3 separate regions of the Homo sapiens genome follow, and regions 2 and 3 are each linked to region 1. The links come from fine-mapping of genetic effects on gene expression. A gene starts in region 1. Each other region holds a variant in brackets. All regions are shown on one strand. Distances are from middle to middle.

Evidence for each region. PIP is the estimated chance that this variant, and not a neighbour inherited with it, causes the effect. A credible set is the group of variants that fine-mapping cannot tell apart.
Region 2: its variant is the best candidate, but not a certain one, in a credible set for the expression of NPY5R in atrial appendage (GTEx, PIP 0.61).
Region 3: its variant is the best candidate, but not a certain one, in a credible set for the expression of NPY5R in lung (TOPMed, PIP 0.65).

The regions. Positions count from the first base shown.
Region 1 is chr4:163,340,203-163,348,393 of GRCh38, reverse strand. NPY5R (neuropeptide Y receptor Y5) reads right to left here and starts at 4,502. Exons shown (of 4, transcript NM_006174.4): 1 at 4,394-4,502; 2 at 2,641-2,680; 3 at 872-942. It also overlaps a transcript of NPY1R not described here.
Region 2 is chr4:164,066,745-164,074,935 of GRCh38, reverse strand. All of the region lies in intron 2 of MARCHF1 (membrane associated ring-CH-type finger 1), which reads left to right. Among named protein-coding and RNA genes, the nearest start is that of MARCHF1, 310 kb to the left of the region's middle. The variant G/A (reference allele first, on the strand shown) is at 4,192.
Region 3 is chr4:163,456,670-163,464,860 of GRCh38, reverse strand. No RefSeq gene overlaps it. Among named protein-coding and RNA genes, the nearest start is that of TKTL2, 13 kb to the left of the region's middle. The variant TG/G (reference allele first, on the strand shown) is at 3,931.

The DNA.
Region 1 (8,191 bases):
GCCTCCCAAACTGTTGGGATTATAGGCATGAGAGGCATGAACCACTGTGCCCAGCCACTTTAATGTTCTTTTAACAAGAATTTCCTACAGAAAACACAAACCAACAAAGAAATTAATTCCAATAAATACATTGTCGTAGAGATTGTGATATATATAGTTAAAAAACCACTTTTGTTACCTATCAATATATGTTTATCTACTTATTTCTAGATCTATAATTGAATAATTATACTAAAACTATAAAAATACATGTTTATTTAAATTAATAGTAAACACTGTTATCTTTAATTTATGAGGGACCTGCAGGTCTTCGTTCAATAAATTTCCAAATGGCAAATACTATTGTGTACATACATTCATTACAAATAAGTTTAACTTCAGTTCTATGTGTAGCAAGTTTCAAACAGGATGACAGAGTCATCATTGTGCTATGAGAAAAGTTACAAGTTTTTCACAACTTCTACAAGTGATTCTATGTTGACCAAATTATTTTCTGGAAGCTAACTACATCCTTTTAAAGGATAAGTTAATTCAAAGACTTAGGATTGTATTCATTCATTCTTAGACCCTAGCCAACAATTTACATTGATATTGCCTCAATGACAAAGAACACCTGGTACAAAAGTGACTCGCATGACCTACTGAATCATATTATTCATCATATTCCCAGTCAATGGCCTCTCAGCACCTACTCTGGATAGGTCAGCAAGCTTCTAATCAAAACAGCTTTGACTGGTGCTTTTGCCTAATTTCCTGAGTTCTGATGATCCCCTGGCTCAATTCAGCTTATTCATGATCCTATTTATATTTATAATTGTGTACAGGCTGCTTGTAACTGCAATCCTGCTTAGTTGTTCTTCTCTTGACTTACTTTCTTGAATCAATCCTTTCTTCTAACTTTGTGGCAGGTCAGTTGTTACCGATAGCCTTTCCTTGTAACACCTAAGCAAGAACAAGAGAGAAATTAGATGGCCCCTTCTACAACGGCTTTGTGCCTTTTTGGAACATGTAACTGTGGATGATACTTACTTAGTGTAAAATTGCTGTCCAAAATTTTTTGAAGAAAGAGAAGATGCAGCACAATTTGTGGTAATAGAAACAATGTAGTTTTGAGTCTAAAATTCAGATTTTTCTCCATTCCATGTGGTTAGACCTCTCTATTATATTCGAATGGAGATAAAACTCTTAATTATTTTCATTCTAGAAATGATGTTTAATAAAGCATATTACACATAGTGGATGCTAAGTAAATATTTCTTACCAATCGTTTTAGAAAAGCAGTTTAATTTCCCTTGCTTTAAAATAACAGAAATGAATCATTCTGGCAATGTGGGAAAATTCAGGATAGAGTATGACTATATTTTTGTGTGTACATATATATGTGTGTATATGTATCTTTATATATACATTTATAGAGAACCATTGAAATTATAGATGTTTCAAATGGCCCCAAAATGCAATGAGGAGGAGATACCTAGACAGACAATAAAGATAGTTTAGCACTTTAAATTTGGATAACTTCATTGATAAAGGCTATCACACAAGCAACATGCAACTAAAACTGTAAGATATATTTACAACATTTAAAAAATGTAAATGAAAAAAGAAGTATATCCATTTCCACGACTGTGCAGTCTGTTATTAAAACTTTTATTTTAAATATATGCACATAAAATATTGAATGCATTAAATTGTAAAACCACATCTCCTTAGTAAGAAGATGAAATAAATGCCATCTTGAGTATTCATTGGACACTGGAGAAAAAACTGAGGATGCTTCTTTCATTCCTTAAAACATTTGAGTATTTTAAGAAAGTAGATAATTTATATATAATTTTAAAGGGTAGGCTCCTTCTATTAATGAACAGCTAAGAATGATTAGTTGTTCCTTCTTTTATTCATTCAAAAAGTATTTATTGAACATATATTCTGCTAGGTGCTCTGCTCTGCTCTAAGCATAAAGACGACTAATGCAAGGTGCTATGCCAAGAATATTCTATATAGATTAATTCAAGCTCACACCCTGAGTAACTGTAGATTGCTGAGATATAAAAGGCCCCAAATTGGATGATGAATGAATTAATAAATGAATGGCATTCTCCTGACTGATAGTAATATATTATTTCTCTATAGCATGGACACATGCATTACTGCTGAATATAATGAATACTTTATGTAGCTACTGATAGATTGATAAGCAAATTTAAAAAATTCTCTCTTAGCATTCATTCATTCAACATTCATTTATTCATTTTATTTTGGTGTGACTGTAGTCAACTTTCTCCTGCTCTCCCTCTAGCCCCACCCCACACCATCTACCACATAAACATACACACATGTAATATCTAATATATAGTCTGCACAGAATGAACATTCTGTGAATCTTTGCTCCAATGAAGGAAGAATTTCTTCTTACGACTAAATAATGAATATTGCAAATGCTGGAGGCAGGGAGGGGGGGTGGGGGAGGGGTGGTGGTGGACGTGTAGTTTTTTTAAAAGTGCCTCCTGGTAGCCAGGGGATAGTTTAAACATTAGGAAAATTTTGTACAATAAGATTTAAGTTGAAAATCTAAGGTACAGGAACGCACTTAAAATGAAAAAACAAACAAAAAAGCAGGATTTTTTCCATTAAACTTACCCTTTCCCTTCCTTTTTCCTGAAAAACACAATGAGCAGACCTACAATGGAAATCCAAATTTCAACAAGTGTTATTACGAGTGCTGTACATTTTTATGCAACATATTTTATCTATTATAAAAGTAATGATATATGTGAATCTTCTGAAATTGCTATATAAATTATGAAATATAGCCAGAGAAAAAATATTTTAACATGGAATATTATTTGACAAGAAATCTGATATTGACAGCATGAGACTTTTGTCATACCTAATTACTATATTTACTCATTCTCTTTTGTATTAGTTGTATCTCCCACCATCAGAATTTCCAGGCTGAAACACAGAACTTTAATCTCTGAGTAAAAAGTGTGAAAAATAAAAGTTCTTTATTAAACTATGGCAACTTATAAAAAATAATATCTTTTTAAAGGTTTACTGGAATTTTCTTATAAACTCTTCTATATCTGACACCTAGACAAATGAAACCTTCTGAATAGATTTTAAGTATTTTAAGAAAGTAGATAGTTCTCAAGAATAATAGGAGGAACTGCAGGGAATTCAAAGGATATTAAAAGTCTGACTTGTACATTTAAATAAGGTTTCTTTGTTTGAATAATTTTTTGCTTTATGAAAATACACATCATTCTTTTCACAAAGGATGACAATCACACAAAAGAATAAAATATATGTAATTCTTTTTCCTCCTGCAATGATACAATATCAACTATTGTCTGTTTTGCTGTGATCGTGGAACAGCAGCATGATTCCATGTTCTCAAATATTCCCATGGTTTGTTCTTAAAGCCAGAATCTGGCACAATTTGAATTGGAAAGATAAATACAGCTCTGCTCAGCTGACAAACACACAGGCATGCACCACCCTCCCTTCCAAATTCTAACAGCAGAGTTTCTCTTCCCTTGAGAAATCTGAAATCTAAAATTGCATTCGGACTGCAAAATTCTGCTGAAAGAGCCTTAGGCTATTTTCCATGGTCTAAGGTAAAATCGTTTTGGCTTTGGTCCAACACAACGCCTCAGTTCCTTTAAAAGATTAACTAAAGGTCTGTGAACTTGGAAAAAAGAATTCCCGTTTCTGGAATTCGAGTTCTATGGATGTTTGTTATTGCTCGCATTTGTTATATGAAGACACCTCGCAAACAGGAGCGCAAACCTTAGAGCGCAGCTGCCTCCCGGGCTCGGGTCAGCGCTGGACCGCGCGGCAGCTGGACGGCCTGAGTGGCGCCCCGCGGGCTGCGCCCCCGGCCTCGCCAGAGACCCGCTAGGGTTGAGCCCTGACCCGGGCACCCCGCGGGCTGCTGTTCCCAGCTCCGGATGCCAGCCGGGCTGCAGCCAGAGCGCGTCCAGCCGGGGGCAGCGCTTTGTCCATCCCCCGCCCCATCCCCAGGAGGCTCCTTCGCGGATCCCCGACACTCTCCTCCCGGGTTCGGCCCGCGCCTGCTCCACCCGGGTGAGTTGGGAACCGGAGGGACCTGCTCGGCACGAAAGAATTCAGCCCAGTACCCTCTCCGCTGTCTCTTCACTCCTGACAAGTGCCTGTTCCGCCACCCTAATCCCCATTTTTCCAGCCGCGCTCCCTTCACCTTCCCCACCCCGCTCTCTTGGGACCCCCGACAACGCCCTGGCACCAGAGACGGGTGCGGGCTCCCAGGGACCTGCGCAGACTCGCAGCCCGCGCGGGGACCCGCCACGGCCCCTCGGTGCAGGCCTACCCGGCGCGAAAGGGGTTGGCAGGGAGGGGCGGGAGCCCGTACCTCGGGGCGCCCCGGCCGCTGCAGGCCCTGGGCTCCCGGGAGCGCGGCCCAGCGCGATCGCTCCTGCACCCCGGCGGTGGCGGCAGCAGCGGGAGCAGGACCTGGAGGCGGCGGTGGGGAAGAGGGGGCGGGGGTTTAACGGCGTCTCGAGAACACGTGACTGTTCCGGGGACCCCCGAGACCCTGCTCCAAGGCGCCTGCTCCGCGCCAGCCTCTTCCAAAGCCGGGGGCCGGGGGCGTCCCAGACCTACGCCGCTGTTTGGGCGCTCTAGGGAGAAGCCACAGGGCCCCGGGATGTCGTCCCTTCACCCTGGCCTCGGGTCCCAGGCCGACCAAGTTAACTTGATGGGCAAATCGAGTTTTGCCGGTCCAGCCCTCAACCCTGTGTAGTGAACTCTGAGAAGTCTTGGACTGGTGTGAGGATGGCTGTGCCCCTAAGTTCTTAGTATTCCTGAGAACAAGCTTCGACTCTCAGGTTTTATCTTTGTTTGGGGTGGGGGACGGTGGGGGGTGGTGTGGTGATAGAAAGAAAGAAAGAAAAAAGACAAAACACTGCTCTTCCTTTGCACCTCTTTGAAGTAAGGAAGAGTGGAGGTGGGGAGGCTGACCCAATGTTCAGGAGAGGCAACAGCGTCTGCGGTAATGAGCCCAGCAGAATAGAAGGGAAGTTTCCCCACTCCAAGGAGTGGCAGCTGTGGGTGTGGGCAAGTGGCAGGAGCAGGGGAGTGAAGCTGAAATGAAATCAACGCTGCTCAAGACTATATTCAATAGCAAAGAGAAGACGAAGGGCTAAAAACGAATTGTCACAGGTTAAAAAAAAAAAAAGACGGGAAAAAAGCCCACACAAAAGAAGAAGAGAAAACCTGTCCTTCTGTTCCTTCCCAACATGATTTCCATCCCTAATGTTTCCAAATCTGTATTGCGCAGGTTTGCTTTATTTTTAGCTAATCATTAGGTGGCAGGTACTTTAGGCGCGCGCGCGTGTGTGTGTGTGTGTGTGTGTGTGTGTGTGTGTGTGTCTGTGAGAGAGAGAGAGAGAGAGAAGGAGAGAAGGGAGAAAAGAGACATTGGGTAGATGTCCATGTGTCTTTGGACATAGCTTTACCATGAGAAAGGGTGTAGTTATTGTACCCTTTAATACTGAGAACTATTATGTAACAGACAGCATCTCCTGCTGAGTAGAGTCGTGTGGGATAAACCGAAGAGAACTGTACCCCTTGGGAGCAATGTGACTTGTAATTCTAACATCTGGGGCAGACATCACTGTTACAGAAGAGGTCAAAGAAAATTTTTTGTGTCCCCTTTCTGCTGGATTTCAGCATTCAATACTCAGGGGATCTGTATAGATTGCTATTTCATCAGTCAAAGAGTCATCCAAGAGCTTTTAAAGAACTCAAGTAAACACAGTTCCTGTTTTATTCTTCTGTGTGTTATTTCTGAAATATTAATATATTCTCCCCAAAAGCTTAACAGAATAGGCCGTCTGAGCAGGCACCTGGGATTCTGCAGTAAGGAGTAGGGGATGAAAGTGTCAAGAAGGGATGACCTTGAGAAAATAAGGCTTGTTTTTTAGACTTTCTTAACTCCACTGTCTCTGCGGTTAATGCAGTACACATTGCCACATAAATTTCTATCTTTCCATCTCTTGCACAGTCATAACATGTACACTTCAAATACACATTGTCTTTAAAACAAATTCCAAGTGAACCCCATTGTGACTTTCAAAACACTAGTCTATGCTACAGGCTTTTGCATATTAAAAGTATTAAAAAATCTTATTTTTTATTTTCCACAAATTTGTTTTCTATTTTGATGATATGAACCTTTAGGTTGAAGTCACTGTTATTAGAGTATTGAAAATAAAAGGCTACCTGCCACTGATACAAAGATTCTAATTAACCTGGCTATTTTCCCTTCCCACTGCACCCACAAACAAGCAAGTCTCAAAAACAGGAGTTGGCATTTCTTCTTTAAATACACGTGACAATACACAGTATTAAGAACACTTGGAGTGGACAAGTTATTAAGAGTTTTTTTGAGGAAATTATAAATTTACAAATTTAAGCAATATGCTACATAAAGAGGAAGATATGAAGATAAGTGTGTTTTTACCTTTAAATTTCCCAGGGGGGATTTGAGACTGATCATCATTACTCTTTGTAGAACATAATAATTTTATTTTTATTTTATGGAGTAACATCTTAGCGAAGGGGAATACCAGAACAGAAGTAGTAATGTCCACCTCTGTTTTATGTATTTTTCCTACTCACTATTTATAAAATGCTCATTTGGGAAATTAAGTTGGATTTTATGCATGTTACAAAATTAAACTGGCTATTGCCCTGTTATTACAGTTCATTATCAGTTATGAAAGAAAGCTTATCTGTAAAGGTAAAAGTTAAAGGTGACTTGGGACTCCTAAGACAAATTATTGAACGATAAAACAGTCACCCAACAATTCCTGGGGTAGTATTTTGCTGAGGAACATGGCTGTGGTTCTTGTCAAAGCTACTGCTGCATTTTAATAACAGCTACTATTTGTGGAAAGCAATTACTAAAGTGTTTTGGTATAATCTCAAATGATATTTGACTTTGATATATTAGTTATAGAACAAGTAGAGGTAAATAAACTAGAGAAAACAGTATTATTTTACTTTATGCATTTATTTCTCTGAGAATTTCGTTGTATTCCTTAAGGGTAAATGTTTCTTCATCCACTTTTTCTATCACGGTAAATTTAAATCCTTAATACTTAAAAGATGTGTTATCAAAAATATTTTATGATGCTCTATGCTGCATTGATTTCTTTGGAATAGTAATAATTTGTCACATAAATCAATATTTAGGACTTCAAATGAGGAGCCAACTTCTTATTATGAAATACATGATTTTTTTTTGAACAAAAAAAAAACCCAAAAGCTATTGAAAAGAAGTTTAGCCCAAAGTATTGTGTGCATTGAGTCCATTTCCCAGGCAACTTAACGATAATTGTGAGGTCCTACGGGGGCATCATTAACATTGTATTGACTTCTGATAAACACTGTGCTCCTTAAGCAACACTTTATTTATCCTTTTGATGCCCTAATGATTATACCATAAAACAGTGACTGACTTTCAGAGAGAATGTATAATTATTTTTACTAGCAAATACTCATGTTAAAAATACATACACACATAGATATGATACAGATGTATTTTATATGTTCATGTATTACATACATATTTTTATAATAGACACTTATCAGAACACCTGAGTTGTAGCCAGGCTTGATCTCAAATTAATGGTGTGGCTTTAGATAGGCACTTGATTTTTCAGTCTTCGTTTTCTTTATAAAATGAAATATTTTGAATCGAAGATCTGGAGTCCCCTTTGAGACCTGACTACTTATGACTTTATGCCATTAATTAGCATGCATTACAAACATATGTGTAGAAAAATCATATTTTTAGATCTTCAGAAAAATTTGATAGCCATAGGCATTGTTTATTTTCCCTCTATATTAAAATTTACAAAGAAAATACTGATGCTAAAGTTTTCCATTATTATTGGCACATTCTCTTCTCTGCAGCTAGTATTAACTATATTTCATGTATTCATTTCAAAAAGTTATGGCTGTCTTACATATCAGTACTTCATTCTTTAATTACATTGTTTTTCAGTTTTGCAGCACAAATATATATATATATATATGTACAAGAAGAGAGCATGGATTCCTTTGAAAATATAACATTTTATTATGTCAATCCATATATAGGCCATACAATTATTTCCTTTTGTAGTTTAAAACTCCTCTGAGA
Region 2 (8,191 bases), 730 kb before region 1:
AAGAAATTATATTTTATAAGAAATTATTTTATAAGAAATATATTTTATATTTCTTATATTTTAGAAGAAATTTATTCAGATAAAATTTTTTATGAATTTACATATAGTATGTATATTTACAAAATGAAGAAAACCTCAATTTTACCTAACCAAAGCCAGTTAGGAGAAACCACTAAAGATCGATTTAAAACTAATAATGGTCCCATTTGTACTATACATAACCTGTTTTCATTTCTTTTCAAAACATAACAGAGAAATTTTTCCATGTCTATAAATACTCCTTTACTGCATACTTTTAAAATGACTACATGGTATTTCATTTTCTTTATTACCACAATTTGTTTAAACAAATACCTATTTTTAGACTTGTTGGCTTTAATTTTTCAATATTTTAAATAATGAAGCAAAAAGTATTTAGATGAATTTTTATGCTATTTATATTAATTTCCTGAGGATAAATTTCCCGACTTAGAGTGAATCAATGAACATTTATTCCCATTCTCAAGGATATGATACATTTTATTTTTTACTCTAAAATCGTGTACCTGTTACATACTCTGGAAATGGACAACCAACCACTTGAATGAGAGCAAACAGAGGATACTTACTCGGAACTTGTTGTAGCAAGAGAATAATCACCATCACTTGCTTTTTGCAGAGACTCAAAGACAGTCAGACTCTTAAAGGTGGTGGTAAAGCTTTGTAGTGAAGGAAAGGGAAGGCTTCAGGTATCCCCTGATTACAGGTTATTGGCATGGGAAGGTTGGAGGCAGGCTAATTAATTTGCATTGTGGTTATTTATTTCAAAAATTACTTTCAAAATGAAATACTTATGGAAAGTTCCTAGCAAAACAATTGATATATAGCAAGATCTCAGGGAATATACTGCTTATTGTTAGGGCAAGAGATTGACACCATCCTGGCAAACATGGTGAAACTCCATCTCTACTAAAAATAACGAAAATTAGCTGGGTGTGGTGGTGCGTGCCTGTAAATCCCAGCTACTTGGGAGGCTGAGGCAGGAGAATCTCTTGAACCAGGGAGTCAGAGTTTGCGGTGAGCCGAAATTGCGCCACTGCACTCCAGCCTGGCGACAGAGCGAGACTGTCTCAAAAACAAAACAAAACCCAACAAAATAACAGCAACAAAAAAAAAACTTTCTAAAATAGGGTATTCATCATATTACCGTTTATCAAAATTTAGTGGTGGTTAATTTCCTATAGGATGATGTGAAAACCTTTAGCTGGTATTCAGAGGCCTTTATATTCTGTTTGTTTATTTATTTATTTATTTATTTTTATTAAACTTTAAGTTCTGGGGTACATGTGCAGGTTTGTTATATAGGTATGCATGTGCCATGGTGGTTTGCTGCACCTAGCAACCTGTCATCTACATGAGGTATTTCTCTTAATGCTATCCCTCCCCCTGCCCCCCACTCCCTGACAGGCCCCACTGTGTGATGTTCCCCTCCGTGTGTCCATATGTTCTCTTTGTTCACCTCTCACTTATGAGTGAGAACATGCAGTGTTTGGTTTTCTCTTCTTGTGTTAGTTTGCTGAGAATGAAGCTTTCCAGCTTCATCCATATCCCTGCAAAGGACATGAAATCATTCTTTTTTATGGCTGCATAGTATTCCATGGTGTATATGTGCCACATTTTCTTTACCCAGTCTATCACTGATGGGGATTTTGGGTTGGTTCTAAGTCTTTGCTATTGCGAACAGTGCCACAATGAACACACACTTCCAATACTCATCTGCCTGTTCATCAACTCAGCTCATAAATTACAGCTTACTTATAATGTCTGTACAAGTCACTGTACTTCAAGAAAACCTTGTTCCTGACTTTGTTTACATTATTTTTCCCCTCTTCTGGAATTTCTTCTCTCCTTCTGACTATGCGAATTCTACCATTTTTTAAAACTCACTCATTTTCATCCTCTATGTTAAAAACAGTTGCCGTGAGGCTCTCTCCTCTGAAATTGTATTGCGCTTGATATCACTACTACTAATTTGACATGAGATGCTAATTGTTCCTGTTGTCTTATATGACCAGTTCAATTACAGGCAGGTGCAAACATTTCTCACACATTTTTATATCTTCTCCATTGCCTAATATAACCTAATAACCTTTATTAATAGGTACTCAATACACATGTCTTCATCCATCAGTGTTTTCCTATGAAATCTAGAATATAGAACACTAATGAAGTTTTTTTTTTTTTTTTTTTTTACTAGAGAAAATTTCTTAAGGGTTTTAGTGCTCTCATTTTTGAAAAGGGGATAATGTTTTAAATTTTCTTTTAGGGAGAGGAAAATAATGAGAACATTTAAAGTTTATCTGTTTCTATTTTTATTTTATTTTATTTTCTTCTTCAAGACAGAGTCTCACTCTGTCGCCTAGGCTGGCGTGTGGTGGCATAATCCTGGCTCACTGCAGCCTTAAACTCCTGAGCTCAGGTGATCCTCCCGCCTCAGCCTCCTGAGTAGCTGGGACCGCAGACACACACCACCACACCCAGTTAATTTTTATACTTTGTAGAGACAGTTTCACCATGTTGCTGAAGCTGGTCTCGAACCTACCTCTGCCTCCATAAGTACTAGCATTACAGGCATGAGCCATCGCACCTAGTCTTGTTTCTAGAGAAGACATTATGTACTAAACAACACTGATGAGAAAACATGAATAAATGACGGGAAATTATAATGTTTTTTATATTTGTTATAAGGAAACAAATTACGACGTAATATCGGCAGTTTCTGTGTTACTCTCACTGCGTATATCCTTTGATATATCAAATGGCGAAGGAGCCATGACTTTTGCCTGTCAGAAATGACTCATTGTCATTTTGACTAGCTAAAAGTGCTGAGCACAAGTGCTTTTATTACTTCTTTTTTTTTTTGGTTTCTATGTTAAAAAATATCTGCAGATGCATAGTCATATTATTGGCATTCTATTTATCTACTTGATATGAATTCTACTTTTTTGCTGCACTAAAAAATTCATTAAAAAATACAATGAAACACTTCTCTTTTGGACCAGAGTGCAGAATTTTGAAAGAAAAAGGTGTAAATTGTTATTTCATATATGTGCCATGGTGGTAAGTGTATACTTACATATATGTGCCGTGTGGTAAGTGTATACTTACAGGAGGAGCCAGAAACACAAAGCAGGGTGAGAAATTTTAAAAGCAAAGTTTACCACTAGGAAGCTATGGGTTGTGAGTAACAACCTAAAGATAGATCTTATAAAAAGAAGTAAGACCAGCAAAACATCTCAAAGGAACAGAACAAAATTTTAAGTATTCCTTATGACAAGTTGAATTAATTGGGGAACTGTCATTATGTTTTCTTTATGACTATTAACTTAAAAATATGTATTATATAAAATGAATACATATTTTGATTAAATGCAAGATTAATATAGCTGTATTTCTTAAGGATATCACTAGTTTGTAACATTTTCTTAATATTTAAAAGTATCATATTTTAATCACTATTAATTTTTATTTCAAAATGAATTATAAATAAAATATAAATTTCCACTTAATTTTGGTGAAATCTATTATAATCCATGCAAAAAACTCAACTGCTAGTGAAAAATTATACTTTCTTTTGTTTTCTGTTTCTTTTAGGTTTGAGAAATAATGCCAACACTTTCAAGAATACTGTCATGGTTTTTGTAAACGAAAATTACCATATACAATTGAACAAACATGTTTTACTTTGAAAAGGAGATAAAATGCTGCTTGCTTACTAGTTTTTACATTTGAAAAAGGTCAAACAGATTTTTATATTACTATATTAGTTTGTTTTCATGCTACTGATAAAGACATACTCGAAACTGGGAACAAAAAAAGGTTTAACTGGACTTATAGTTCCACATGGCTGGGGAAGCCTCAGAATCATGGTGGGAGGCGAAAGGCTCTTTTTACATGGCAGCGGCAAGAGAAAATGACAAAGAAGCAAAAGCAGAAATCCTTGATAAACCCGTCAGATCTCATAAGACTTTTTCATTATCATGCAAACAGTAGGAGAAGGGCCTCCCAGGGTCCCTCCCACAACTTGTGGGACTTCTTGGAGATACAATTCAGTTGAAATTTTCTTTGGGACACAGCCAAACTCTATCAATTACATATTTGAATATTTTAAGAGAATGAATTGAGGCATTTAACCTGATATAAATAGACTGC[G/A]TAACTCTGCCTGCCTTGCAGACATTTAATTGTTTATTAATATGTAGCAAGAGAATTCACTTCATACCCCTTAAAAATCCTTCCAAAATGAATAACCTATAGAATTATAGGTTGAGCATGTAATTTATCATCTAAGCTGGGATACTTTTCAGAGGGAAAGGAGAAACCAGATGTGATGGTGGGACAGCTGGTGTGAATGTAGACCATCCCAGGCAAATCAGAATATGTAGTCACTCTACAAAAAATGCACATTGAATCTTTTCCCACATCCCCAAGTAGCCAGTTTTTAAAATGATCCCAGTCTTTGTTGTATATACGTTCTGGTAAAATTCTAGGTAAGGATCCTTTTAAATTCCTGAATATCTCAAATCTCTTGGGGTGGGGGTGTTGCTCTGCACAACTTTTGCAGGGTACTTTAATAGTGATTTTATTTAAGGCCTGTATGTATCACTTATTTGTCACATTTAACATTGTGTCATGACAGAAAACTCTTTTCTTAATTTAAACTTTTATTTTAGATATAGGGGGTATATGTTTAGGTTCACTGCATGGGTATATTGCACCCAGATAGGGAGTATAGTACCTGAAAAATAGTTTTTCAATCAACACCCTTCTCCCTTTCTCCCCACTTTAGTAGTCCACAGTGTCTGTTGTTCCCATGTTAATGTCAATGTATGCTCCATGTTTAGCTCCCATTTAAAAATTAGAACATGCAGTATTTGGTTTTCTGTGCCTGCATTAGCTCTCTTAGGGCTACAGTCTCAAGCTCTATCCATTTTTCTGCAAAGGATACGATTTTATTCTTTTTTACAGCAGCATAGTATTCCATGGTATATATGTACCACATTTTTCAATCCAATATACCATTGATAGGGCACCTAGGTTAATTCCACGTCTTCTCTATTGTAAATTTCATGGTGATAAACATACAAGTTCATGTGTCTTTTTTCGATAATGATTTATTTTCCTTTGGGTATATACCTAGTAATGGTGTGTCCAGAATTGGTGGGTTCTTGGTCTCACTGACTTCAAGAATGAAGCCATGGACCCTCGCGGTGAGTGTTACAGTTCTTAAAGGTGGCGTGTCCAAAGAGTTTGTTCCTTCTGATGTTCGGATGTGTTCGGAGTTTCTTCCTTCTGGTGGGTTCGTGGTCTCACTGGCCCAGGAGTGAAGCTGCAGACCTTCTCGATGAGTGTTACAGCTCTTAAGGCGGCGTGTCTGGAGTTGTTCATTCCTCCCAGTGGGTTCGTGGTCTCACTGGCTTCAGCAGGGAAGCTGCAGACCTTCGCGGTGAGTGTTACATCTCATAAAGGCAGTGTGGACCCAAAGATTGGGTAGCAGCAAGATTTATTGCAAAGAGTGAAAGAACAAAGCTTCCGCAGTGTGGAAGGGGATCCAAGTGGGTTGCCACTGCTGGCTCAGGCAGCCTGCTTTTATTCTCTTATCTGGCCCCACCCACATCCTGCTGATTGGCCCATTTTACAGAGAGCCGATTGGTCTGTTTTACAGAGAGCTGATTGGTCCGTTTTGACAGGGTGCTGATTGATTGGTGCATTTACAATCCATGAGCTAGACACAAAAGTTCTCCACATCCCCACTAGATTAGCTAGATACAGAGTGTCAGTTGGTGTATTTACAAACCCTGAGCTAGACACAGAGTGCTGATTGGTGCATTTACAAACCTTGAGCTAGATACAGAGTGCCGGTTGGTGCATTCACAATCCCTTAGCTAGACACAAAGGTTCTCCAAGTCCCCACCAGATTAACTAGATACAGAGTGCCGATTGGTGCATTCACAAACCCTGAGCTAGACACAGGGTGCTGATTGGTGTGTTTACAAACCTTGAGCTAGATACAGAGTGCTGATTGGTGTATTTACAATCCCTTAACTAGACATAAAGATTCTCCAAGTCCCCACCAGACTCAGGGGCCCAGCTGGCTTCACCCAGTGGATCCCTCACCAGGGCCGCAGGTGGAACTGGCTGCCAGTCCCACGCTGTGCGCCCTCACTCCTCAACCCTTGGGTGGTCAATGGGACTGGGGGCCATGGAGCAGGGGGCGGCACTCGTCAGGGAGGCTCAGTCTGCGCATGAGCCCATGGCAGGTGGGGGAGGCTCAGGCATGGCAGGTTGCAGGTCCCGAGTGCTGCCCCGCAGGGAGGCACCTAAGGCCTGGTGAGAAGTCTAGCACAGCAGCTGCTGGCCCAGGTGCTAAGCCCCTCACTGCTCGGGGCCGGCGGGGCTGGCCGGCCGCTCCGAATTGTGGGGCCTGCCGAGCCCATGCCCACCCAGAACTCATGCTGGCCCACAAGCGCCGCACACAGCCCCGGTTCCCACCCATGCCTCTCCCTCCACACCTCCCCGCAAGCTGAGGGAGGCGGCTCCGGTCTTGGCCAGCCCAGAAAGGGGCTCCCACAGTGTAGCGGTGGGCTGAAGGGCTCCTCAAGTGTGGCCAGAGTGGGTGCCAAGACTGAGGAGGTGCCGAGAGTGAGCGAGGGCTGCGAGGGCTGCCAGCACGCTGTCACCTCTCAATGGGATTGCTGGATCAAATGGTAGCTCGGTTTTAAGTTCTTTGGGAAATCTACATACTGCTTTCCACAGTGGCTGAACTAATTTACATTCTCACCGATAGTGTATAAGTGTTCCCTCTTCTCCACAACGTCACTAGCATCTGTTATTTTTTTACTTTTTAGTAATGACCATTCTGACTGGTGTGAGATGGTATTTCATTGTGGTTTTATTTGCATGTCTCTGATGATTAGTGATAATAAGCATTTTTTCATATGTTTTTAGGCTGCTCATATGTCTTCTTTTGAGAAGTGTCTGTTCATATGGTTTACCCATTTTTTAATGTGGTTACTTGTTTTTTGCTTGTTGATTTGTTCAAGTTCCTTATAGATTCTGGATATTAGACCTTTATTGGATGCATAGTTTAAGAATATTTTCTCCCATTTTGAAGACTGTCTATTGATAGTTTCATTGCCGTGCAGGAGCTCTTTAGTTTAATTAGGACCATTTATCAATTTTTGGTTTTTTTTGCATTTGTTTTTGGGGAGTTGGCCAAAAATTCTTTGCCAAGGCCAATGTAAAAAAGGGTATTTCCTAGGTTTCTTCTAACATTTTTATAGTTTGAGGTCTTACATTTAAATCTTTAATCCATTTGAGTTAATTTTTATATATGGCAAAAGGTAAGGATCCAGTTTCATTCTTCTGCATATGGCTAGCCAGTTATCTCAGCACCATTTATTGAATAAGGAGTCCTCTTCTCATTGCTTGTTTTTGTTGGCCTTGTTGAAGATCATCAGATGCAGTTATACTCCTTTATTTCTGAGTTTTCTATTCTGTTCCATTGGTCTACATGTCTGCTTCTGTAGCAGTACCATGCTGTTTTGTTTACTCTAGCCTTATAGTATAGTTTAAAGTCAGGTAGTGTGATGCTTCCAGATTTGCCTAGAATTATTTTGGCTATTTGGACTCCTCTTTGGTTCCATGTCAATTTCAGAATACTTTTTTTCTAATTCTGTGAAGAATGACATTGGTAGTTTAATGGGAATAGTGTTGCATCTGTGAATTTCTTTGGGCCATATGGACATTGTAATGATCAAATAATGTTTTGAAATTAATGAAAATAGGGACACAACATACCAAAACCTCTTAGGGGATGCAGCAAAAGCAGTATTAAGAGGAAAATTAATACTATTAAAAGCCTTCGTCAGACTTTTTTTTTTAAGTTCAGAGGTACAAGTGCAGGTTTGTTACATAAGCAAACTTATATCATGGGGGTTTATTGTACAGATTATTTTATCACCCTGATATTAAGCTTAGTACCCATTAGTTGTTTTTCCTGATCCTCTCCCTCTTCTCACCCGCCACCCTTCAAAAGCCCCCAGTGTATGTTCTTTCCCACTGTGTGTCCATGTGTTCTCATCATTTAGCTCCTACTTATAAGTGAGAACATGCAGCATTTGGTTTTCTGTTCCTGTGTTACTTTGCTAAGGGT
Region 3 (8,191 bases), 120 kb before region 1:
TCCATATTGTAACCTATACTTGATGTTCATTTCATTCTCTGCTGTACAGTATTTCAGATCATGAATATGCCACAGTGTATTTATTTAAATTGTTGATGAACATGTGGGTGTATTTATTTGGGGGCTATTACAAGTAGTGCTACTATGAACATTATTGTACCAGTATTTTGGGGAACACATTAACTTATTTTTATTGGTTATATAAATCAAGGAGAATTACTTTCATTGGCTGTACATATATTCATCCTTAGTATATACTGCCAAATGTTTTTACATAAATGGGTATTCTATTTTTATTTGCTATTCTTGCAAACTTCTCCATAGTCATTATGCTAATTTATACTCTCATGTCAGAAAATAGACTGGGTGCAGTGGCTCACGTCTGTAATCTCAGCACTTTGGGATGCCGAGGCGGGTGGATCACCTGAGGTCAGGGATTTGAGACCAGCCTGGCCAACATGGTGAAACCCTGTCTCTACTAAAAATACAAAAGTTAACTGGGTGTGGTGGCACGTGCCTGTAATCCCAGCTACTCAGGAGGCTGAGGCAGGAGAATCGCTTGAACCTGGGAGTCGGAGGTTGCAGTGAGCCGAGATCTTGCCGCTACACTCCAGCCTGGGTGAGACTCCATCTCAAAAAAGAAAAGAAAAGAAAAGAAAAGTTCAGGTGACACCTCAGTCTCCACAACATTTGGTTTTTGTCTTTTCTCTATAGGTTGTTTGTATATTGTTGATTTTTATGAATATATACGTTGGATATACACCCTTTATTGGAATATAGGTATTTCAAATATCTTCTGTCACTATGTGTATTTCCATTTTACTCCCTTAAGAGTTTCTTCTGATGAACAGAAGAGTTAATTTTGATGTACTATTTATCATTTTTCTCTCTTTGGTTTGCACTTTTTGTATTCTGTTTAAAACATCTTTGCTTTCTCCAAGATTATTGAATATATTTTCTTATGTTTTCCTCTGCAAATGTTATATTTTTATCTTTTACATACAAATCTACAATTCACCTGGAATTGATCATTGTGTGTGGTGTGAAGTTGGGGTCGAGACGCGATTTGTTTTTTCATATTGACACAACTACATAGCACTGTTTAAAGAAAATACCATCCCTTCACTTACTGCACCATGGTGTTATTTTTCTCACAAATCAAAGGACTGTGCATGTGTAGATCTGTTTCTGTCCTATTGGTCTATTTGTCTATTCTGATGCTCATACTGTACTGTTTTAATTATCATTGCTTTATAATAAGCTTTAATATTCAGTAGTTAAGTTCTCCATTTCCTCCACTTTTTGTTCTTCTTTTTCAAGATTGCCTTGGCTATTGCTGGTCTTTTAATTTTCATATAAATTTTAAAACCAGACTGACAATTTCCACAAAAATTCAGTTGCATCTTGATGCTGTTACATCTGGATTATAGTTCTTTTTAATCTTCCATTTAAAGAGATCATATTATTAAATGTCCTATAGGAAGTTAAACTAAAGAGATCCCATTAAAGTGCTTCTAGCGAGTGAAGTTCACAGTCTTCAAACTGAGGTAGGCCTACTTTGGAAGGATCTTGGTATGTCGGCATGGAAGATTTTAAGTGCGTCTGCTTCCAGGTCCTGAAGTCCATGTTTTTGTTTCTAAAACTGATCTGTTTGGGAATACCCCTGTCATCATTTCCAATATTGTCTTTCATAATTACCCTTTTTCTACTTTTCGAAAGAAAGGCATACTTCTTTCCATTCTTAATGTTATTATTCATTGACAGTTGTGAAATTGTCACAGCACCAACCAATACTTCAAAATACTGGTTCTGGCAAAACCTCCTTAAATGAAGTCACTATGAACCAGCAGTAAATCATAGTGTTTTTCCTTGTTTTACTCCTAATATTGGTGAAAATGAATCCTGTAAGTAGGAAGTTACTTTAACCCATAAAAACATGTTATGAATTCAACATATATTATAGATTGGAGTCGTGGCAATGATCACAATTTTTGTTTAATAAAGTCTTTTCTCCCATCACTCAACTATTGTCAAAACACTGTTGCTGAGTATCTCAGGGGAGCAAAGCCAAGAACAACAGTAAGGAATACTGAAGATGGTAGCACCTGATTCATGCAGTCTACAAGTTCTGACAAGTCTCTATGCCTTATCTGTCTATGCATTTTTGAAGTGGAATATTCAAGACTTATGAAAGGCATTTTCAGTCTCACTAAGGAGAAGAAATCTGGTAAAGACTCTCATTCGGCTGGACGCAGTGGCTCATGCCTGTAATCCTAGCACATTGGGAGGCCGAGGCAGGCGGATCATGAGGTCAGGAGTTCGAGACCATCCTGACCAATATGGTGAAACACCGTCTCTACTGAAAATACAAAAATTAGCCAGGCGTGGTGGCACGTGCCTGTAATCCCAGCTACTCAGTAGGCTGAGGCAGGAGAATCGCTTGAACTTGGGAGGCAGAGGTTGCAGTGAGTCGAGATCCTGCCACTGCACTCCAGCCTAGGTGACAGAGTGAGACTCCATCTCAAAAAAAGAAAAGAAAACAAAAGAAAAAAAAATGGCTGTCACTCATTTGTGCTTTGTATGATAAGATAGAGGAAGTTAAAATTTGCTATGTATTTCTGGAAGACCAGTAGATTGTTTTCTTTTTTCCCTACTATTTATTTAGATTCATAGGAGACATCTGTTTCTTGACTTGTGACAAAATTCCTGGATAATGTACGACTATGTGCATTTTTTCATGTGGGTATCAGATTCCCACTTGTCACTGATACACCATAGCTCTGTTTATTTACCAGTAACATTCCTGGTTATCTCTCATGGTGTGTATTTATTCCATGAACTTACTAGATTTACATTAACCTAACTTCAGTATACTGTGGATTATACTGTATAAAAAGAGCATTTAAAAGATAATAATCAATGTACTTGTTTTAAACCTTATATTTACCTTCGGTCCAATACCTTTTCCTATTTTTTATGTTAATTTCCACAAATTAGGTAAAAATCTGCTCTCTTAATAGTAGAAATCTTAAGTGCGTGTGCTGGGCAAAATGTGCTGCTATTACAATCTAGGCCAGTCTAGGGCAGAGTGCCCTGCACTTCAGAAAACCTGCTTCTTATAGTCAGAATTAATTTATCCCTCTCAGATGTGATATGTCATTTTAATTCTATTGGATGTATTAAAAATATGTTTAACAACTGAATCATAAAAGGACACAAACATTAGTAACATGACCAAAGCTACATCCTTAAAATAATAATTAAAAATTAAATGTAACCTTAAAGTTTCTGGGAGTATGTAAGGAGAAAAATTTTAATTCCACAGGTTTAGTTTATTGGGGCTCATTTGTGCCAGGTAGACATGACAAGTTGCTGGCTTGAGAAATGAATCCAGCCCATAAAAGTCATCCTATTTCAGCAAGAAGGCTTTTCTTTATTTTTTTCTAACATTGAATTTGTACTGAAATACCTATAGACAATTGATTTCCTCTGCTTCCTTTCCACTCTCCCTCCCTACTTTCTTAAATCTGTTTCACAAACTTTTTTGTGCCCGGCTCTTGAATCAAGCATTTATTTTGCTATTCAAGTGGCAATTGGTAAGGAGATTGTAAGGATAAAGAGTAAATAGCATTGATGGGCATTCGGGTTGATTCCAAGTCTTTGCTATTGTGAATAGTGCTGCAATAAACACACATGTGCATGTGTCTTTATAGTAGAATGATTTATAATCCTTTGGATATATACCCAGTAATGGGATTGCTGGGTCAAATGGTATTTCTAGTTCCAGATCCTTGAGGAATCACCACACTGTCTTCCACAATGGTTGAACTAATTTACACTCCCACCAACAGTGTAAAAGCATTCCTATTTCTCCACATCCTCTCCAGCATCTGTCTCACTCATAAGTGGGAGTTGAACAATGAGAACATA[TG/G]GGCACAGGCAGGGGAACATCACACACTGGGGCCTGTCGGGGGTTTGGGGGCAAAGGGAGAGGTAGCATTAGGAGGAATGCCTAATGTAGACGACAGGCTAATGAGTGCAGCAAACCACCATGGCACATGTAAACGTATGTTACAAACCTGCACATTCTGCACATGTATCCCAGAACTTAAAGTATAATGAAAAAAAAAGAGTAAATAGCTTCTTTAACAAAGTACAAACTCTATTTGTAAGAAAGTATAAAATTTTACTGAAGCAAAGAAAACAAGATCTGAGTAGATGTCAAAAGAAACACAAAAAACAAGATCTGAGTAGGTGTCAAAATAAACTATGTCTAGGATGGAAAGTCTCAAAATAATAAAAATGCCAATTCTTCTCAAATGAATGAGTCAGATAAAATACCAAAAGGATGTGTGGGGAGTGGGTAAGGTGTACTAGGGTGGTTAGGGTGAGGAGAAAATAGATTGGTTCTAAAGTTTTTGTATTAAAATAAATGCCTGAACATTGCCAAGACATTTTGAAAAAGAAAAATAATAGTACTGACTACATAATTTGAGGGGCCTAATGCAAAATAAAAATACAAAACCCGTTGTTAAAAAAATATTAAGAATTTCGAGTCAGCAAGAGCAGAGAATTACACCAAGTGTAGAAGTCTGCACTACTGCACACGGATGAAGCTGATCATGGATATGACCATTTGGTGAGATCTACAAATGGATTAACGGACATAGAGATATGTTCACTGTTTTGTTAGAGACTACAATGACTGGTTCACGATTCTTTTGTGTGCTTTTTATTTGCCTAGTTTAATCTCAAATCAATTAAGAAGTTGGGCTTCAACAGGAAAAATAACAGCTTTTTGATATCTGAACCAGTGAACCCCGTTGTTTATCTCTTGTGTCTCTTGACCTGTGGCCAAAATTCTCCTATGTAGGAGAATATTAATAACTTAGATTATAAGTAACTTTAACTAAAAGAATTGTATTTCAGCGGGCTTATAGAGATAAATCAGTGCGTATATAAATCAAATATTCCTAATGTTTCAAGAAAACAAAGACTTTAAACTTATAACTAAAAAAATTTTAGATCTAAAATTTATTTTCTTGCAAAAACTTAGAAATGTTTTAAGGTTTCAAGCTAAATTAAGATAAATCTTTAAGCAAAGAAGCCCAATCTAACAATTTTGATTTAATTTAAAAAACTGTCTTCTGATTAATCGATGTGAAGTTTAAGACCAACTTATATTTTATTACATTTGAGTTTGTTTTTAATAAACTTTAATAGGCTTACTGATAAAATAAGCTAACTTTAACATAAAGTTTATGATTGTGAAAATGTAAGTTTTTATGCACCTTAATTGTATTATTATTCTGATAAACATTGTTTCAAGACTAATCATATTTTGTCATATGTCAGCTTAAAGATAAATTCTAAGACCTTTAGATAACTTAAAACCTGATTGAGGCTGGGCGCGGTGGCTCACGCCTGTAATCCCAGCACTTTGGGAGGCCGAGGCAGGCGGATCACGAGGTCAGGATGTGAGACCATCCTGGCTAACACGGTGAAACCCCGTCTCTACTAAAAATACGAAAAAAAATTAGCTGGGCATGGTGGCGGGCGTCTGTAGTCCCAGCTACTCAGGACGCTGAGGCAGCAGAATGGCGTGAACCCGGAAGGCGGAGTTTGCAGTGAGCCGAGATTGCACCACTGCACTCCAGCCTGGGCTACAGCGAGACTCCGTCTCAGAAAAAAAAAAATAAAAAAAAAAACTGATTGATATAAAGTTGTGTTAATTAATACATAATCATTAGATATATAGATATTTTTAAAATAAGACGACAGCAAAACATAGGAAAACTTGGAAAGTAAATTTTATTCGCCTTGATTTATCATACCTGAGACTGAAAAAAAGTCTGTAAAATGTGTTAAAATTGTACAGTTTGTTCAATTTTTATAGTCTTTCTTCTTCCTTGGGTTATAGATTAACACCTTTGTCCACAATATGAAAATATTTTCAATTATAAAAGAGCTAATGTTCTTTTTAATTGTGGAGCCTATTTTTTTAAAAAAGCATTTTATTATAACTTTTATTAAATATGTAACAAGTATTGTTTATCAGACCATATCTTAATCAAGTATCTAAATCTCCTCTTCTATTTTCTTTCTTGCATTCTTCAAATCAGATTCTAAATACATAAAAAATGAATGCAATTGTCAGGATATCTTTTATACCTGAAAATATTTTGAGATAGCCCAAAGGGCACCTGGAAAATAAAATATTTTTTTCACCTTATAAATAGAAATACTAGAAAGCATTTGGTTTGTTTGATGTGTTACTATGATAACAGTTGCATGGGAATAGTTATTGATTCTCAGCCTTCATTGACCTAACTTTGTATAGGTAAAATATTATTAATATCAATATTTAAGAAATTACATGCTTTATGGAAGTTTAGAGAGAGTTGTTAATGTCCTCGCTGTCCATAATATGTTTCAATCTCAAGAGAAACAGTTATCATAGCTCTTTGGAATATTTGTCCAGTTTTTGTATAGCTTACAGCTTCCTGCTTTGCCCAATATTTGATAATAAATAGTAGTCATAATTTCAGTTATTATTTAAAATGTCAATTGATGATAGTAATACCTTTTTAATTCAAATATAACATCTGTTAGACACTAGTTCTCAATTTTCTCAATTGGGCATACATATCAGACTTACCCTTGGAGTTTGAGAGAAATACAGATGTCTAGGCCCTACTCTGGACTTATTGCATCTTTTTTGCTTTACATACTTGATCTATAAAATTAAGTCTCAGAACCACTTTATCACATATCTTGAGTTTTTCTCTTAATAAAAATCATGTTCATACATTTGTGTAAATCAGATGTGATATTCAATGTCTTGAAAACAGGCTTAATTATTGACCTTAGGAATATTTTGTCTAACTTTGATTTTGGAAGTGTGTTGTTGTTTGTTTTGTATGCCTCAGAAACAATTTTTTTGTCACTTGCATTATGCTTATTTTGAACCCTCATTCGACCTCTCAAATTTAACTGTTATTAGGAATAAGTTAAGTACAGCCATTTTAAATAACCATCATCCACAGACAGTTTTCATTTGAACCTGATGCTTGCCTGAAGTCTCTGCCAAAACCAAAAATCAGAGATTTTTTCTTCAACAAGTAAAACAGTTTTAGAGACTTAAGTAAGAGACTGTACTAGGTACTTAAACTACTGACTATCCAGATAACAGACTCTTGAAGACAGACTTCTGAGCAGATATCGTTTAGACAACTTTCAAACATATCAGTGGACTGAATCAGGATACCCAGAACTCAATTCCAGACAAGAAGCAGATGATATAATGTGACTGCTAACTCATGATCCCACAGGACGACAATTAATGACTAAATGGACTAATGGGGGAAAATGTATTATGGTTATCTGTTTGGAGTATTATTGATTTTGTTTTTACAATTTTTTTTTAGATATATAAGGAAGCTACTTCTCTTTCTTCTTAAGCTATCTAATCAACACTGATTTTACAAATTCCAGTGAAGCATTTTAGAAATAATATCTGATTCTCATGACACCCTCTCCTGCTAGAATTGGAAAATTTAAGTAAATCTCCTTATTTTTTGGCGGCAAGTTACCTTATGGTAGTTATTTGCATATATTTGGTAAGAAACTGTTCTCCTTCTTACCAGGTAATAATTGGACATATAGATTATGCAACCACTCCAATATGGAGTATCATATCTGAGAATGGTGATTATCAAGTCAGGTATTTTAAAGTACAGATATTTTAAAGAACAAAGATTGATGTACTTGTGGGACCAATGCCTATGGAGTCCTCCCGGGAAAGCTGGCCTGGTACAGGTGGAAAGAAAGGCAAGAAACCTTAATAAATTTAGAGTCCTTAAGAAAAAAAAATATCCATCCCTGTTCTTAGCTACTATGGTGAAAACTGGCAAAAAGAGATTTTGGACTTGGATTCCTAGCTTCAGGACAGCAAGTAATAGAGGCTTTCACACACTGGGAGCCTTCAGTCTAATATCTCTCATTCACAATTTAAATACTGCATGCATTTCTTATCCTTTCTTTTATTCCTTCTTCCACACTCTACACAATCAGAATACTTGAAATTAATACAATAAAGACATGTCCTCTATCATGTGTATACAAGATACCACTCCTGGCCTGGTACGGTGGCTCAGGCCTGTAATTCCAGCACTTTGGGAGGCCAAAAAAA